Homo sapiens: one gene and its partners. The protein of the gene in region 1 purifies or fractionates together with the protein of each later gene. This does not show direct contact. Each region holds a gene or a part of one and is shown in the gene's direction. Other genes may lie near its edges. The genes, in order: CAMK4, PPT1, ANKRD52, CNOT1 and ARHGEF7.

Region 1 (3,518 bases):
ACACATGGATACCGCTCAAAAGAAGCTCCAAGAATTCAATGCCCGGCGTAAGCTTAAGGTAAGATAGCATATATTTTGTTTTGTTTTGTTTTGTTTTCAAAAAATTTATCTCATCTTGATCTATCAATAATAGTTCTACCGTTCTTCATCTAATACTATTATCTATTTCTTAAGGCACCAGGGAAAATCCTGCTTTGAAACTCCAATAAGGCTGACACAAAGCTACTTAAGTTTTCTTATACTCTCATAAGGAATATATGATTAATAAAGGGAAATTTGTTATATAAGTTGATATTTACATATCAAATATATTATTGCTGCTTCTCATCTAATTAAAGTATACTGCTTAAACAGCATTGTTCAGGGAAAACTGATATTTATTCAGAAAGTTGTTTTCTTTCAGAATATGTAAAACTTGGTAAACAATTTTTGAAACTATATTTCCTAATATAGATAAATAATTACTTGACAAAAATTTAAAAATTTAAGTGATATAATAAATTACTTAACTAAATATATCATTTTATATAGTACCTATCGAATAGAGATTAGGAGCTTTTCTATTACATAACTGTGTTTAGGACTAGCTATGTAAGTAGAGGATCTCAGAGAGCAGCTGGGGGTCAGAATTAGGGTCCTATGCAGCCATTGCTTACGGTCTGATACAGACTAAATAAATCTGAAAGGCTCCATGGTCAAATTAATTATAAATACCCCAAATTAAATAGTATTGACTTCACCTAGGATTTCTCCAGCTAGTTTGATCACGGAACTCTTATATCCCCATGATGACATCCATGTGGTAAAAACTACTAACGTCCACAGAACTAGTGTTCCGTAAAACAAATACACCGGGAAACACAGATTAAAATTTTCAAAAATTGGTTAGCCACAGGTAAACACATGTATTCAGGCTTTCAGTTGTCCAGATGATTAAATACACTAATTTGTATTTAATTTGAGATGAAAGAGGTTTTACTGTTCATTCTCCAAATTTTCTTTTGGCAAACAATCTAGGAATAAGGTACTTTGAAAACTTTAACGCTAACCTATAAAACGGAATCCCTAAAAGCAAAGCTGGGGTTGAGCTCTGATGTGGGGTGTTAAAGCAGAGGTAACACTTGACACTCTTCTGTTTCCAATCAGGCAGCGGTGAAGGCTGTGGTGGCCTCTTCGCGCCTGGGAAGTGCCAGCAGCAGCCATGGCAGCATCCAGGAGAGCCACAAGGCTAGCCGAGACCCTTCTCCAATCCAAGATGGCAACGAGGACATGAAAGCTATTCCAGAAGGAGAGAAAATTCAAGGCGATGGGGCCCAAGCCGCAGTTAAGGGGGCACAGGCTGAGCTGATGAAGGTGCAAGCCTTAGAGAAAGTTAAAGGTGCAGATATAAATGCTGAAGAGGCCCCCAAAATGGTGCCCAAGGCAGTGGAGGATGGGATAAAGGTGGCTGACCTGGAACTAGAGGAGGGCCTAGCAGAGGAGAAGCTGAAGACTGTGGAGGAGGCAGCAGCTCCCAGAGAAGGGCAAGGAAGCTCTGCTGTGGGTTTTGAAGTTCCACAGCAAGATGTGATCCTGCCAGAGTACTAAACAGCTTCCTTCAGATCTGGAAGCCAAACACCGGCATTTTATGTACTTTGTCCTTCAGCAAGAAAGGTGTGGAAGCATGATATGTACTATAGTGATTCTGTTTTTGAGGTGCAAAAAACATACATATATACCAGTTGGTAATTCTAACTTCAATGCATGTGACTGCTTTATGAAAATAATAGTGTCTTCTATGGCATGTAATGGATACCTAATACCGATGAGTTAAATCTTGCAAGTTAACACAACGTAACACTTAAAAGCATACATTTTCAGCAACCAGTGGCACATATTTGAAGTGAATAGTAGCAAATTGTTTTTGCTTTGAAAATCTAGCCATCCTACATCCTTTGGATTTCTTCACAAGGCAGTAATTCCTTTGAACTACTGCTTAGCTAATACTAGGTAGTGCTAAAAGACATGTTCCCATAACTTTTACAACATTTTACTTTTTATCATTGATGTGTTCAAACTGTTTACAAGGAGATGCTTATAGATGATAGTTGTACATATGTGCAAAAAAAAATCCACTTGCAATGGTAAGAAATTGAAGTATCCTTAAAGGCCATGAAGCCATATGTCCCTAAAGCCTGTGTGGAGAATGCTTTATTTTATTCTTATTTATATACACTATATTAATAATAACCAAAATGTTCTAAGATTCTGCCATTTTACAACCCTGGAGGAAGTAATTTACAAACTCACGCTGAGTTCCATTCTTTCCTTCACCTGCTCTCCAATAAGATGACTTTCTGATAGACAAAGCTTAGGGTGTAATAAACAGGGAAGAAAAGAAGGTAAGACTGTACTTAAACTGATGAAGATAAGATTGATTCCTTTTCATTTTCCAGATAAAATTGTATTTACTCATGAATTTATACAACTTTACAGATAAGAACATTTTAATGGATAAACTCTATAATTACCAAGTTGCAAATATTTAGAAAATTCTATTTCACAGGTTAGTGCCAAAATGTCTTCATAGAGTAGGAATAATATTCCATTTTAAGATTATTCATTATTGACTTTAATAGAGTAAGAAAACATTATTGTTTATCAAAGCTCTTTTTTTATCCAATTGATGGTTATCTACACATATCACTTATAAACTAAAGTTATTTATGAAAAGCTAGTATGTCTTTTTCTCGTATTTGGAATGAAAGTACCCACATTTTACAATGTAGTGTTGAGAATGTGGCTGCCAATAAATTTAGCACAATGCAATTTATTTACCTTAAAAAACAAACAAAAACAAAAATAAAGAAAAATACTGATTTCAAATCAGACTCTTAAAAAGCTGGAACATTAGACCTGATATTTTATTATGATTTTTCCCAGAATAAGTTTAATTTCTCTTTGACTTTCATAGAAACACTTTCCCCTTATAGAAATTGCACTATCTCCAATTTATTTCTAGTTTGAGTTGAAATGAATATTTTATCAGATTAATTATGTGTCACATTTTTGGTGGGTTTTCTCAATTTTAAAAAAGAATTCATTTTAAAAAATAATTATTTTCAGAGACCAAATAAAGACAATAAAAATGACTATCACATAAAAATCCTTGTTAAAAAAGAGATCTTAAATTATGTTGGCTCTCCCTCAAAACTATTAAATTAGAAAACGAAACTAAAGCTCCAGTTTGTAGAGGCTGTTGGACCTCAGTAGACATTCTTCTTTTCAATCACAAATCTCTCTCTACTACTGTTCTCATGGGAAGAAAACAAGGTAGGACTTCTTATCTTTCATAGTTTAAGAATCTGACAGGTCACTGATATGGAGCCCCTGAAGAAGCACATCATCTGGGCTCAGAAGATTATTTTTTGTTTTGTTTTATTTGTACTATCTAGTAGAGAGCACTTTTCTTATTCCCTCTTTCCTTCCTTCCTCATTTAATTATTCCCTCTCAGAATTCCCATGTTGTCCATTATAAG
Region 2 (3,518 bases), on another chromosome or scaffold:
ACTCTGTCTCAAAAAATAAAAATAAAAAATACTGATTAAAAGCTATAGATTGATGTGTTTATCTTCACTTCCTCCTTAAACTTTAATTAAGTGGTAGCAGAAGAATAAAAAGTGATAAACCCACAAGGGCAGAGAGAACAGGGAGAGAGGAGGTAAGAGATCATAAAAAATGGCAACATGTTTTTGAAAGCAAGCAAGCAGATGAATGAGTGTGAGAACTGTTTTAGCAGAGCAGATGGTGAAGGCTTAAAGTAATAAAGAGAAATCATTTTGTCTTTGTGATACTGTCCCAGGTTGCCCCTGGTATTAGGGAGGATTAATTCTGGTTGCAAGAAGAAACCCATATCAAGCCAAAGTAAATTTTAAAAGAAAGTAATACTCTGTTGGTGCCTAAAGCCTCATAGGGCCTAGAATCAAGAATTGGGAGCCATGAGGAGCCAGGGTATTCTCTCTCCAGTGCCATTGTTGCTTCTCTCTCTGTGTCGCTGCTTCTTTCTCTCCATGCAGACCAGCTTCCCCTGCCACCCACATGATGGAAGGTGGCCTCGCACGGCTTCCAAATGTTTAATTTTCTGTTAGGAGATTGTCTCAGTCTGAGGCTAGACTCTCTTTGTCCCGATTCAGATTCTTCAGGAAGGGACCATGCCCCAGCTCAGGTCAGGTCTCCCCCTCTGCTCTCATTAGCTGTGGCCAGAGAAGTGGGACCGTGCTTACTAACCATACCCCACCTCCCTGTAAACCAGTAGGCCGGGCAGGAAGAGTGCAAGAGAGGCAGAGACCCCAAAAGATGTCTTCCACATTCTTCAGATAACTTAACCTTAGCAAAGCAAACGTGATATCCTAATACGCACAGTAACTGGTGGGGAAGCCCCCGGCTTGGCATGGTGAGGGCAACGAGGAATGGTATAATAGTTCTCTCTCTCCTTCCTGGATGTAAAACTACCCTCTAGTTCCCTTTTGCCTTTGCAGATGCTGTCAGCCCTTCCTAGCCTTCTCCTTCCTCCGGTTTGCTCCCTGCCATCCCCTGCCCCACGCTCTACCCTCCTACCTCTACACTCCCTGCCACAATGAATGCTTCAGTGTTGCCCTGGCCTTGGCCTCCGTCTTCCCCCGTACCAGCTCAGAGGAAGCTAGAGCTTTACATATCCTGTTTAATTTTCATAGCAACTTGCCTTCCCCAGGTCTGCTCTGGGCCCCGCTCCCAGTTTGCACCCCACCCTCAGTGGATCTCAGAGTGCTTTTCCTCAATTGTCCAGTTTTCCCATGTCTTTGCCCTCAGCCGATGAACTTGCAACTTGGTTTTCTGGAAATATTAAGGCATCTACTCAGGCTCTCTCAGAGACTTTCAGCCATTCAAAAAAGTTAGAGAGTAATGTAACGAACTACAGGCATACCTCAGAGAAACTGAGGATTTGGTTCTAGACCACCACAATAAAGCAAATATTGTTAATACAGCAAGTCACACAAAGTTGTTGGTTTCCCAGCGCATATAAAAGCTATGTTTACACTATACTGAAGTCTATTAAGTGTGCAGTAGCATCATGCCTAAAAAAAGTACATGCCTTAATTAGAAAATACTTTATTGCTAAAAAATGCTAATCATTTGAGTCTTCAGCAAGTCATCTTTTTGCTGGTGGAGGGTCTTGCCTCGGTGTTGATGGCTGCTGACTGATCAGGGTGGTGGTTGCTGAAGGTTGGGATGTAGGGTCCAGCCCCACAGGGTCGGTGGGTTTTTCTCCCTGTGTGCGGAGATGAGAGATTGTAGAAATAAAGACACAAGACAAAGAGATAAAAGACAGCTGGGCCCGGGGGACCACTACCACCAAGACGTGGAGACTGGTAGCGGCCCCGAATGCCAGGCTGCGCTGATATTTATTGGATACAAGACAAGGGGGGCAGGGTAAGGAGTGTGAGCCATCTCCCATGATAGGTAAAGTCACATGGGTCACGTGTCCACTGGACAGGGGGCCCTTCCCTGTTTGGCAGCCGAGGTGGGGAGAGAGAGAGAGAAAGACAGCTTAGGCCATTATTTCTGCATATCAGAGACTTTTAGTACTTTCACTAATTTTGCTACTGCTATCTAAAAGGCAGAGCCAGGTGTACAGGATGGAACATGAAAGCAGGCTAGGAACATGACCACTGAAGCACAGCATCACAGGGAGATGGTTGGGCCTCCGGATAACTGCAGGCGGGCCTGACTGATGTCACGCCCTCCACAAGAGGTGGAGGAGTAGAGGCTTCTCTAAACTCCCCCGGGGAAAGGGAGACTCCCTTTCCCAGTCTGCTAAGTAGTGGGTGTTTTTCCTTGGCACTGACGCTACCACTAGACCACGGTCCGCTTGGCAACGGACATCTTCCCAGACGCTGGCATTACCGCTAGACCAAGGAGCCCTCTAGTGGCCCTGTCCGGGCATGACAGAGGGCTCACACTATTGTCTTCTGGTCACTTCTGAGCATGTCCCTTCAGCTCCTATCTCTGTATGGCCTGGCTTTTCCTAGGTTATGATTGTAGGGCAAGGATTATTATAATATTGGAATAAAGAATAATTGCTACAAACTAATGATGAATGGTATTCATATATAATCATGTTTATGATCTAGGTCTAGGATAACTCTTGTTGTTTTATATATTTTATTATACCGGAACAGCTCATGCCCTCGGTCTCTTGCCTCGGCACCTGGGTGGCCTGCTGCCCACATTGGGGTGGCTGTGCTAATTTCTTAAAGTGAGACAATGATGAACTTTGTATCAGTTGACTCTTCCTTTCATGAAAGATTTCTTTGTAGCATGCGATGCTATTTGGTAGCATTTTGGCCACAATAGAACATCTTTCAGAACTGGAGTCAATCCTCAAACCCTGCCGCTGCTTTTATGTAAGCTTATGTAATATTTATTCTAAATCCTTTGTTGTCGTTTCATCAGTGTTCACAGCATCTTCACCAGGAGTAGATTCCATCTCAAGAAGCCACTGTTTTGCTCATCCGTAAGAAGCAATTCCTTATCTGTTTTTTGAGATTGCAACAATTCAGTCACATCGTCAGGTTCCACTTCTAATTCTAGTTCTCCTGCTATTTCCACATCTGCAGTTACTTCCTTCATTGAAGTCTTGAATCCCTCAGCCATTCATGAGGGTTGGAATCAACTTCTTTTAAATTCCTGATAATACTGATATTTTGACCTCTTCCCGTGAATCATGAATTTTTGTTTGTTTGTTTTTGAGACAGAGTCTCACTCTGTCACCCAAGTTGGAGTGCAGTGGTGCCATTACAGCTTACTGCAACATAGCCTCAACCTCCCAGGCTCAAGCAATCCTCCCACCTCAGCGTCCTGAGCAGCTGGGACTACAGGTGTGAGCCACTACACCCCACTAATTTTTTAATTTTTTTGTAGAGATAGGATCTCATTTATGTTGCCCAGGCTAGTCTCACACTCCTGGGCTCCACTGATTTTCCCTCCTCACCCTCCCAAAGTGCATGGTACCCAGCCCGTTAATGTTCTTAATGGCATCTAGAATGAT
Region 3 (3,518 bases), on another chromosome or scaffold:
GCAGTGTGTCTTGAGCCCTCTGGGTGTAGTCCATAGTGGGCAAAGACAAAAGTATGAGATTGAAGCTCAGGAGCTTCAGGGGGAAAAAAAAACCCAAAAGTATGAGACATAGTTCCTTCCCTAAAGGAATGGATTTTTTTTTTTTTTTTTTTTTTGGAGACAGAGTCTCACTCTGTTGCCCAGGCTGGAATGCAGTGGTGTGATCTCAGCTCACCGCGCCCGGCTGGTCTTCTTGAGAGGATTAGAAAAGCTAAATGTACAAAATAATTTGTTTATTCCACAAGCATTAATTAAATATTTACTTACTAGGTTCCAAGTACTGTGCTAGATACTAAGGATAAAAGATGAGGCTGGGCGTAGTGGCTCAAGCTTGTAATCCTAGCACTTAGGGAGGCTGAGGTAGGCAGATCACCTGAGGTTAGGAGTTCAAGACCAGCTTGACCAACATGGTGAAACCCCGTCTCTACTAAAAATACAAAAAATTAACCAGGTGTGGTGGCACACGCCTATAATCCCAGCTACTCAGGAGGCCGAGGCAGGAGAATTGCTTGAACCAGGGAGGTGGAGGTTGTAGTGAGCCGAGATCACGCCACTGCACTCCAGCCTGGGCAACCGAACAAGACTCTGTCTCAAAAAAATTAAAATTAAAAATAGGCCGGGTGTGGTGGTTCACGCCTATAATCCCAGCACTTTGGGAGGCCGAGGCAGGCAGATCATCTGAGGTCAGGAGTTCGAGACCAGCCTGGCCAACGTGGTGAAACCCCGTCTCTACTAAAAATATAAAAATTAGCTGGTCATGTTGGCAGGCACCTGTAATCCCAGCTACTCGGGTGGCTAAGGCAGGAGAATCACTTGAACCAGGGAGGTGGAGGTTGCAGTGAGTCAAGATCACACTAATCCACTCCAACCTGGGCGACAGAGTGAGACTCTGTCTCCAAAAAAACAAATAAATAAATAAAATTAAATAAAAATTTAAAAAGGATGAATTGTCCCAAATTTCTGTCTTTCGAAAGCTAATAATCTATTGGGAAAGATAAATAAAAGGACACTTATGCATACTAATGTAAGATGTTAATGACGGGAAACTAGGTATAGGTTATGTGAGAACTCCCTGTACTATCTTCACAATTTTTCTTTTTCTTTCTTTTTTTTTTTTTTTAATTAATTTATTTTGTAGGTCAGGGATCTCTCTGTGTTGCCCACACTGGTCTCGAACTCCTGGGCTCAAGCAATCCTCCTGCCTCAGACTCCCAAAGTGCTGGGATTACAGATATGAGCCACCACACCTAGCCCACAATTTTTCTATAAATCTAATAATATTCTAAAACAAAAAGTTTATTTTTTGCTGGGCACGGTGGCACATGCATATATTCCCAGTTATTCAGGAGGCAGGTGCAGGTAAGGCAAGAGGATCATGCAAACCCAGGAGTTTGAGGCTGTAGTGCACTATGATCATGCCTATGAATAGCCACTGCACCCCAGCCTGGGCAGCCTAGTGAGACCCCGTCTCTAAAAAAAAAAAAAACCCACAAAAATCAGGTAGGCACAGTGACTCATGCCTGTAATTCCAGCACTGAGGTGGGAGGATTGCTTGAGCCCAGGAGTATGAGACCAGCCTGGCTAACACATAATGAGAACTCATCTCTATTTTATTTAATTAAATAAATAAATAAATTAATTAATTTATTTATTTATTTGAGATGGAGTCTTGCTCTGTCACCCAGGCTCTAGTGCAGTTGCGCGATCTCAGCTCACTGCAACCTCTACCTCCGGGGTTCAAGCGATTCTCCTGCCTCTTCCTCCTGAGTAGCTGGGATTACAGGTGCCTATCACCACGCCCAGCTAATTGTTTTTTTGAAGACCGAGTCTCACTCTGTTGCCCAGGCTGGAGTGCAGTGGCATGAACTTGGCTCACTGCAACCTCCACCTCCTGGGTTCAAGCAATTCTGCCTCAGCCTCCTGAGTAGCTGGGACTACAGGAGCACGCTGCCACGCCTGGCTAATTTTTTGTATTTTAGTACAGACGGGGTTTCACCATGTTGCCCAGGCTGGTCTTGAACTCCCGAGCTCAGGCGATCCACCTGCCTTGGCCTCCCAAAGTGCTAGGATTGCAGGCGTGAGCCACCACGCCCAGCCTAATTTTTGTATTTTTAGTAGAAACAGGGTTTCGCCATGTTGGCGAGGCTGGCCACGAACTCCTGACCGCGGGTGATCTGCCCACCTCAGCCTCCTAAAGTGCTGGAATTAAAGATGTGAGCAACCGAGCCAGGCCCCTGTCTCCATTTAAAATAAGTAAATTAAATAATTTTTTTTTAAGATTTATTTTTTTAAAAAGGACACTAAAATCCAAGAGGCTCAGCTATTACCTTCAGCAAGTTACTTCTCTATGCCTCAATTTCATCACCCACAGTAAGGATAAAAATAGTATCTACTTCATGGGATCTTTATGAGGATTAAATTATTTAATATACATGAAGTACTTAGAACTGTGCTTGACAGTAAGTGCTACTTTATTATTATTACTACTACTACAACTACTACTAAGGTATGAGAAGACTGCCAAGGGAGCACAGAGGAAGAGGCATCTTCCCCAGGGAAGGCTGGGAAAGGCCTCACAGAGGAGAGAAGCTGGGACTGAGTTTGAGATGAACAGGACTTATTCGGGTGGGCTGGGAGGAGAAAGCATCCTAGGGCAGGGGTTGGCGTGCCTGGAGGTGGGGAAAGCATGTTGGTCAGCAGAAGGCTGATAACTGAACATCATGCTCTAGGTTCTCTAGGAGAGCATTCAGAGGATAAAGGAGGGCATTGAAGCCAGAGGGGTTCAGGGCAGACCTTGAGAAGGTAAAGTGGGTCTGGAGCTGCCATTGAAGAATGGGTAGGATTTAGAGAACCTACCTAGAGCTGAGGACGGGTGGCGGCCAGGTAGGCCTGGAGGGCCTTGGTCCTCTCCTCTGGCCCTCCCAGAACTGTGCCCTCCTGGGCTGGGCCTGTCCCTGCCTCACAGTCTACCCCCGGCTCCCCAGCTGTCTGGAGTTCTTACTGGATAACGGTGCAGACCCCTCCCTGCGGGACAGGCAGGGCTACACAGCTGTGCACTATGCAGCCGCCTATGGCAACAGACAGAACCTCGAACTGGTATGTGTTGGGGCCCGGCCTGCAGGAGGGGAGGCAGGGGCAGGGCACAGGGTTTGTGGATTCCAAAACTAAGGGTTCAATCAAATGTGGTCTTTGGATCCAGAGGCTTAGTGGGGATTACTGCGAGTCGGGGACTGGGGTACTATCTTGGGAGTTCCAGAGTCTCAGCACCTACTTTCCTGTCCTTTGCAGCTCTTAGAAATGTCCTTTAACTGCCTGGAGGATGTGGAGAGCACCATTCCAGTCAGCCCTTTGCACTTAGCTGTGAGTCCCACGTCTTTTTTCTGTTGCCTTCCTTGTCCTACCTGTTCCCAGGCCCTAACAAAGGTGCCAGCACTTGTGAAGTTATCCTTCCTTCTGCCTTTTTGTGGGAGAGGGGATAA
Region 4 (3,518 bases), on another chromosome or scaffold:
CTGGTTATGAAGAGAGTCAGTATTGAGCCAAACTTTCATAGCCTGTATTCAAACTTCCTTGACACGCTGAAGAATCCTGAATTTAACAAGATGGTTCTGAATGAGACCTACAGAAACATTAAAGTAAGAGTTGGTTCTTATATTTCCTTTAATTATTGCTTTGAATTTGGAAATATTTGATTATATAGGTAGGATTTTTGCTATTTTTCCATATATATTGTCAATATTAGGTACCTCTGGAAATTGCTGTAGATTTTGTTTCTTATATGGAACTAAATTTTATGCAGAACTTAAATTTATAGGCATACCCTGTGCCTTTTCTTTGAAAGTAACCACTATTATGAATTGTTTTTGTCATGCCATGCATGATTTTAGAACTTTACCACTGTTATACATAAGCAGCATAGTATTGGTTAGCATATTCTGTATGGTGTCGCCCTCTGTACATCCTTTTCTTTTTTTTTCACTTACTTTTTTTTCTCCCCTGGATATTATTCATGATAATGATAATGCTCTTTGCTGTAGCCCCCTTTTTTTTTTTTTTTCAATTTTTTTGAGATGTGGTCTCACTCTGTTGCTTAGGCTGGAGTGCAGTGGCACGATCTCGGCTCACTGCAGCCTCCACCTCCCAGGTTCAAGCAGTTCTCTTACTTCAGCCTCCCGAGTAGCTGGGATTATAGTTGTACCGCCATGCCCAGCTAATTTTTATATTTTTAGTAGAGACGGGGTTTAATCATATTGGCCAGGCTGGTCCCGAACTCCTGACCTTAGGTGATCCACCCTCCTCGGCCTCCCAGAGTTCTGGGATTACAGGCCTGAGCCACTGTGCCCGGCCAGTCCTCTTTTTTAAAAAACAGAAAAATATAGTCTTGTAGAAAACCATTGTATGTATTTGTATTGCTGCTGGGCATTTGTGTTGTTAATCACTTAAACTATTATAAACAATGCTGTCCTGAATGTTTTCGTTTGTATCTTGTAGTATTCAAGTGCAAGATATCTTTAGACTCTAAATCTGTTTGTGGAATAGCTGTTGTCTAGGAGTCTGTGCAGTTTAAGGTCAAATTCTACTGAGCTGAGGCTTATTCAACAAAATTCAAGTATTTTAATTTCTAAACCATCATTTATTTCTTAGGAGGAAAAACTTCTAGAACCAGCATACAGCTGTGGTCATTCTTTGCTCAATAACTTGGGTCATTGGCTTAGGAACCAGCACTATATTTAAACCTGTGGATGGGAATATTCCCCATTCTTGGTTACGCTGTAGTGCAAAAGAATTCCTGGCTCTCTGTTGCACAGCTGACTTGTGCCATTCTGCTGTTGCTGTATAGAGTTAAGGAACATGGCTCTATTTCGTTTTTATTATCTGATAGCAAGGGTGGTTGGGATACATAAAAGTTTCCACATACTCTGTAGCAAAGTTTCAAGACCATGTTTTTTAAACAGAAGTTTAAATATAGCCCTAAGTCAAGAGGTACCACAGAGTAGATGGGTATATACATGTGTGCATACCTGCAGCCAAAACACTCTCCTATGTTAGTTCTGCCCCCCCTTAGAAAAACAGTAACCGGAGAATCAGTTAAATGGTTTGGGTTTTTTAGAAATTTGAAAAGAAGTATATAAACAGTATTATACTATATCTCAGAAAGTTATCTTGGTTGGCTGCAGAGATTTGTTAATGACCTGGGTATACTGAAGATTGCAATAGGAGGCTAATTTGATTATATTCCTTTGTATGCTTGCTGCCTTTAAGGACTTAAGCATGGCTATCATCCTCATTTAAATTAATTTAGCACTTCAAAATAGCTTTGTAGTTAGGTCTCTGCTTTAAACCTAGCTAAGGTTTTCAGAGTTGAAAATACTTTTCTAGGGGAGGATAGCTGGCACATAACTTTGTGTTCTTTTTGAATTTTGTGCAATGTGTTTGTACCTATTTTGAAAAAATAAAATGTAAAGACTTCTTCAAGGTAAAAATAGCACTGTTGAATCATAAACACAGCAAAATGATATTGAGAATGATATACAGAGTAATTCTACTTTGGGGCCTGTTCTTAGAAATGATGACTTGTCTTTAGGATAGGATAATGGAATTCTCAAATACTTAGTTGAGTTTTCTTTCATAAGCTTATTCTCATATCTTTCTTAATCTTACACTATTTCAGGTGCTCCTGACCTCTGATAAAGCTGCAGCCAATTTCTCAGATCGTTCTTTGCTGAAGAACTTGGGACATTGGCTAGGAATGATCACATTAGCTAAAAACAAACCCATCTTACACACTGTGAGTTTCATCTAAATGTGTAAAAATTGAGAATCTTCAGCACATTATGATTACAAGTATTGGCTGTTTGGAGCTATTTAATGATTATTGGGGTTTTGTAAGATTTTGGCCCACGTTTTGAGTTGTTAACCCCTTTTTGTAAGGCAAGGACTAGACATTATGTTGATTCCTGTTTTGGGGATAAGCTTGGCAAAATACTTTTCTTTGGTTTTGTTATACCATTTTGGGGGGTATATTCCCCGCTTTTGAAAGTATTTTTCTTATTCTAGGACTTGGATGTGAAATCATTGCTGCTAGAGGCTTATGTTAAAGGACAACAAGAATTGCTCTATGTAGTGCCCTTTGTTGCCAAAGTCTTAGAATCTAGCATTCGTAGTGTGGTGAGTAGATTTTAATATTTTATTTATGACTAATTTCTAAGCATTGCTTTGTTTTAGCATGAGGTCAAGAGATTATATTCTTAGTTCTTGTGAGGTAAAGCTAGTTAAGTCTGTTTTCCTCTATGGCACTTGGATTTCCAATTTGAGAGGCTGGGTGAAATAAGAAAGATTATAATGGTTGGCTTTGGTTTTTGGTTTTTTGTTTTGTTTTGTTTTTGAAATGTGATATAGGTGAGAAGGCTAGGGGTTTTGTTATGGCTACAGAGGTATAAGTGTTTAACTATGTTTAACTGTTTTTGGTTATTTTTTAATCCTTGTTTTTTGTTTTTTATTTGTTTGACTCCCCCCTACCCCCTTATGTTGTATTGAATTGTTTTAAATAATCCAAATTAAAGGGCACATTTTGGGCCAGCTTAACATAATAGCTTTTCTTTAGGTTTTTAGGCCACCAAACCCTTGGACAATGGCAATTATGAATGTATTAGCTGAGCTACATCAGGAGCATGACTTAAAGGTAATTTACTGCTTCCTTGTCCTCTGGAACATTCTTTGCCTTCACATTATTAAAACTTACAGTGAAGGCAGGGTATTTCGGGGGAAGTACTATAATAACTGAAAGTAGAGTATATTATGAGTAAAACTAAAGTTTTCTTTTAAAAATTCTAATCCAACTCTGGAACTGTGCAGTTAAACTTGAAGTTTGAAATCGAGGTTCTCTGCAAGAACCTTGCATTAGACATCAATGAGCTAAAACCTGGAAACCTCCTAAAGGATAAAGATCGCCTGAAGAATTTAGATGAGCAACTCTCTGCTCCAAAGAAAGATGTCAAGCAGCCAGAAGAACTCCCTCCCATCACAACCA
Region 5 (3,518 bases), on another chromosome or scaffold:
TACTAGATGAAGTACCTTTTTTCTATAAATGTTACTCCGTAGCTAATAAATGTGGCTAGTGGATGTCTTTTGAGTGCTGGGGCCCCAGCTAGAGCTGCCCCTCCTGTCTGGGGCAGACGCCGTGAGGAGCCCCACGCTCGGCCCAGGTGGCGCGAGCTAGTGTTTGGCCCCAAAAACTGACTGCTGAGAGCCAGAGATACGAATGAAATGATAAATCCTGAGGTTTATTTCACATGGAGTGTTTAAAGAGCAGAAGGAAGTGCGTGATAAGTGCCCTTTCGCGGTGAGCACGCGAGTCTCATGTTCTCTGCCCTTCCCGCTCTGTGCCCTTGGCAGCTCCCCTCCCACCCGGTCACTCCGTCCAGCAAGCACGCAGACAGCAAGCCCGCGCCGCTGACGCCCGCCTACCACACGCTGCCCCACCCCTCCCACCACGGCACCCCGCACACCACCATCAACTGGGGACCCCTGGAGCCTCCGAAAACACCCAAGCCCTGGAGCCTGAGCTGCCTGCGGCCCGCGCCTCCCCTCCGGCCCTCAGCTGCTCTCTGCTACAAGGAGGTGAGGTCCCTTGACCACTCAAACAGCCAGATGACGGTGAGCATGCCTCGGGCCCTGGGTGTGCCCACGTGCTGGGCCTTCTGTGTACAGCAAAATGCACCCTAACTCCTAGAGAACTGAGAAGGGGGGGTCTGCCTTGGTTCTCTGGTTATCTGCTCTGCTGCTGAGAGGCCCGTGGTAACCTGTGTGGGAAGGCGATGTGCAGGGTCCCCCTCCTTTCTGCCATGCACAGGGGGGCCTTTACTGCACTTGCCGGAGGAGTGTGCCGCCAGGGGCCAGGAGCTGGAAAGGCGCTGAGCCCAGGTGGCTTTCACTCCCTGTGTGTGAGGCCATCGCTCAGCATCTGCACGCTGTCTGCTGCGTCTAACGACCCCTCCTCTAGGTTGGGGATCCTGTCCAGGAGCCCTGCATTTTGTCATCCAGAAGCCATTTGAGATGAAGAGAACATTTACTAATACAAATGAAAAACAATCACTTAGGCGGTTTCCCCCTTTGATGCATAAGAAATCATGATGCGGTCTTTGCTTGTCTCTGTTCTCATCCGGCATTTTTATATTTGCTAGGCGCAAATAAAGTACGATTCCAATGAATAAATAGAAGTGTTAACACTTCCTTACACTTTTACCTAAACCAGCTTGGATGAGGAAAGGAAGTGTCTTTAGAAATCTGTTCTGAGAAGTACTTTCACCTGAGGAAGCTGATAATTGAGATGAGAGTTGTTTTCATAAGCAGTTGAGCGTGCATGGTGGTGAGGTATGAGGAGTGGCGGTGAGAGTGTGGGTATCGTGCGCGTCAGTGTGAGCAGCAGTGCCCGTTGGTGGGGTGTGAGTGAGCGTGAGGATGGTGACACGCTCTTGCCTGGCATTGTGCCTCTGTGTCTGGTCAAGGCCACATTTGCCAAGGGAACTGGAGCAGACTTTTTCTACATTCTTGCCGGCAGCCCTGGGGGTTTTAAGGCCCACAGGAAAGTACTGTATGAGAAATTAGGATCTGTGCTTTTCATTTTTTGTTCTGAGTCTTTGTTTTTATGATATCTTTCAGGTAATCATGTGTGCAAGTCAGAATTTCCATTTTCTATCATGGGAAGTTACTTGAAGAATGTTGCTGTTCCTTATTGTATACTTTAGTGTGCACAGTCTAAAGAAAAAGTGAGCTACTACAAGAACTGGTGGAGACTGAATTACTAGGGAAGAAAATTGGGATAAAACTGTTGGGCAAAGAAGTAGAAAGGGCAACGGAAGGGGTATTGAAGTGAAGATAAACAATTTTTTTTGATAAGTCTGGCTGCATTTGCTTTGCCAACTCCACACTGGGAGAGAAGGGCTCACACCGAGCAGCTGCCGTCCAGTGTTGCTGAGCACCGCCCAGCAGTAGCGTGGAGAGTGATCTTGCAGGGTGTGAGAAGAGGACATGGAGGCTCGTGGAGGCCGCTCTGCAGCCCGCTCTGCCTGGCTCTGGCTCAGGTGTGCTGTGTGCTCTGTGACCCTCTGCGCCTGCAGGTGCCCTCGGAGCACGTGAGGGGCGGGCGTTGGCTCTTCAAGGCTCTCCATCTCAATTTGCTTCGAATTAGGGAAGCCATGAGCACATGTGTATAAATGTGTCTTCTGGAACAGATTGCTGCTGCATTTCTAAGAGCTTTCCAATTTTTTATAGAAATACTTTTGTTTAACTTTTTGAAGGCTATTTTAGATTCAGAGTTTGTTACGTGGCTGTATTGGGTGATGCTGGGGTTTGGGCTTCTGGGGTACCTATTACCCAAATAGGAAACATTGTACCCAATGGGTAGCTTTTCAAAACTCACCCCCATCACCTTCCGCCTTTTGGAGTCCCCAGGGTCTGTCATTTCCATGGTCATGTCCATGTGTACCCATTGTTTAGCTCCCAAGAAAAGACTTTTAAAGATAATTTTAAAAACCAAGCTTTGTTTCCTCTGTTTCCAGCCTGGTTCATTCCATAGCACATCTCATCTTCTGAGTCTTGGTCTCGCGTTTAGCATTCGTGATGGTTTATGTCGTTGGGGTGATGCAGAAACCAGCCTTTTTTTGATATCGGTATTTAACACGTGCTTGACAGTTGACACCTTACCTGCTCTGTTGGGACTTGCTTTGCTCACTTTGTTTTTTGCCGTCGTCTTCTGTGCTTGTTTGAAAAGCTGTTTGAAGAGGTAAGGGGTGGGCCATTCCGTTGTGAACACTCTGAGCTGGTGTGCATGTGGCCCCTGCACAGCAGCCCTGGCCGAGCTTGGCTGTGCTCCTGGCACTCAGAGTCAGGTAGCTGAGCACTCGCTCCCTTTTCTTCTCCCTGAAACTTCAAATATTTTCTTAAAGCAATTATTTTTTACTTATCTGTCATTTAATGACAACCTTAGTTTCCTCCTCTCTTTCCAGTTAGCTGTGCCAGGGGATAGGTCTGTCCTAGGGAGCAGCTGCCCCCTCCTCTCCTCCTCCCTCAGGAGCGTGCAGGATGTCTGTGCACACCAGCGCCAGCCTGCCTCCTGGTGACACCTCTCATCACAGGACTAACAGGACCCAAATGACACGAGGGGTTTTATTAGAATTAAAAAAAAAAAATTAGCCAATGACTAATACTGAAAATGCCCTATTGATTTTTAAAAATTAACGTTCAGAAGCTGGTAAAGAAAAATCAAAGTAGGAAAAGGCGAGAAGCTCTTATCAGTGGCTATAATAATTTGGGGTTTTATACCTTTACAGCAGCCTTTCTGATATGCCAGTGAAAATGATTGGCTTTAGAGTATGTTAGCATTTTCTTTTGTCTTTCCCTAGGATCTTAGTAAGAGCCCTAAGACCATGAAAAAGCTGCTGCCCAAGCGCAAACCTGAACGGAAGCCTTCAGATGAGGAGTTCGCGTCCCGGAAAAGTGAGTACCTGCGGTCCGTGTGGTGGAGGACGTGGCCTCCTGGTCACGTAGGCCATGGCTTTCCTGGGATAGAGGGAGGC

The links.
Region 2: the proteins of CAMK4 (region 1) and PPT1 purify together in Homo sapiens (co-immunoprecipitation; one large-scale study listed by IntAct). This does not show direct contact.
Region 3: the proteins of CAMK4 (region 1) and ANKRD52 purify together in Homo sapiens (affinity purification with mass spectrometry; one large-scale study listed by BioGRID and IntAct). This does not show direct contact.
Region 4: the proteins of CAMK4 (region 1) and CNOT1 purify together in Homo sapiens (affinity purification with mass spectrometry; one large-scale study listed by BioGRID and IntAct). This does not show direct contact.
Region 5: the proteins of CAMK4 (region 1) and ARHGEF7 purify together in Homo sapiens (affinity purification with mass spectrometry; 2 studies listed by BioGRID and IntAct, with this or other methods). This does not show direct contact.

What each region holds. Positions count from the first base shown.
Region 1 is NC_000005.10:111,482,880-111,486,397, forward strand, and holds part of CAMK4 (calcium/calmodulin-dependent protein kinase type IV), read left to right. Parts: coding exon 1-58; intron 59-1,146; coding exon 1,147-1,587; 3' UTR 1,588-3,518. UniProt on the Homo sapiens protein: Calcium/calmodulin-dependent protein kinase that operates in the calcium-triggered CaMKK-CaMK4 signaling cascade and regulates, mainly by phosphorylation, the activity of several transcription activators, such as CREB1, MEF2D, JUN and RORA, which play pivotal roles in immune response, inflammation, and memory consolidation.
Region 2 is NC_000001.11:40,083,753-40,087,270, reverse strand, and holds part of PPT1 (palmitoyl-protein thioesterase 1 isoform 1 precursor), read left to right. Parts: intron 1-3,518. UniProt on the Homo sapiens protein: Has thioesterase activity against fatty acid thioesters with 14 -18 carbons, including palmitoyl-CoA, S-palmitoyl-N-acetylcysteamine, and palmitoylated proteins. In contrast to PPT2, PPT1 can hydrolyze palmitoylated proteins and palmitoylcysteine.
Region 3 is NC_000012.12:56,248,376-56,251,893, reverse strand, and holds part of ANKRD52 (serine/threonine-protein phosphatase 6 regulatory ankyrin repeat subunit C), read left to right. Parts: intron 1-3,023; coding exon 3,024-3,135; intron 3,136-3,327; coding exon 3,328-3,399; intron 3,400-3,518. UniProt on the Homo sapiens protein: Putative regulatory subunit of protein phosphatase 6 (PP6) that may be involved in the recognition of phosphoprotein substrates.
Region 4 is NC_000016.10:58,546,324-58,549,841, reverse strand, and holds part of CNOT1 (CCR4-NOT transcription complex subunit 1), read left to right. Parts: coding exon 1-123; intron 124-1,208; exon of another isoform or gene 1,209-1,343; intron 1,344-2,159; coding exon 2,160-2,276; intron 2,277-2,545; coding exon 2,546-2,656; intron 2,657-3,092; coding exon 3,093-3,170; intron 3,171-3,343; coding exon 3,344-3,518.
Region 5 is NC_000013.11:111,282,803-111,286,320, forward strand, and holds part of ARHGEF7 (rho guanine nucleotide exchange factor 7), read left to right. Parts: intron 1-336; coding exon 337-561; coding exon of another isoform or gene 562-597; intron 598-1,602; exon of another isoform or gene 1,603-2,024; intron 2,025-3,344; coding exon 3,345-3,438; intron 3,439-3,518. UniProt on the Homo sapiens protein: Acts as a RAC1 guanine nucleotide exchange factor (GEF) and can induce membrane ruffling. Functions in cell migration, attachment and cell spreading. Promotes targeting of RAC1 to focal adhesions. May function as a positive regulator of apoptosis.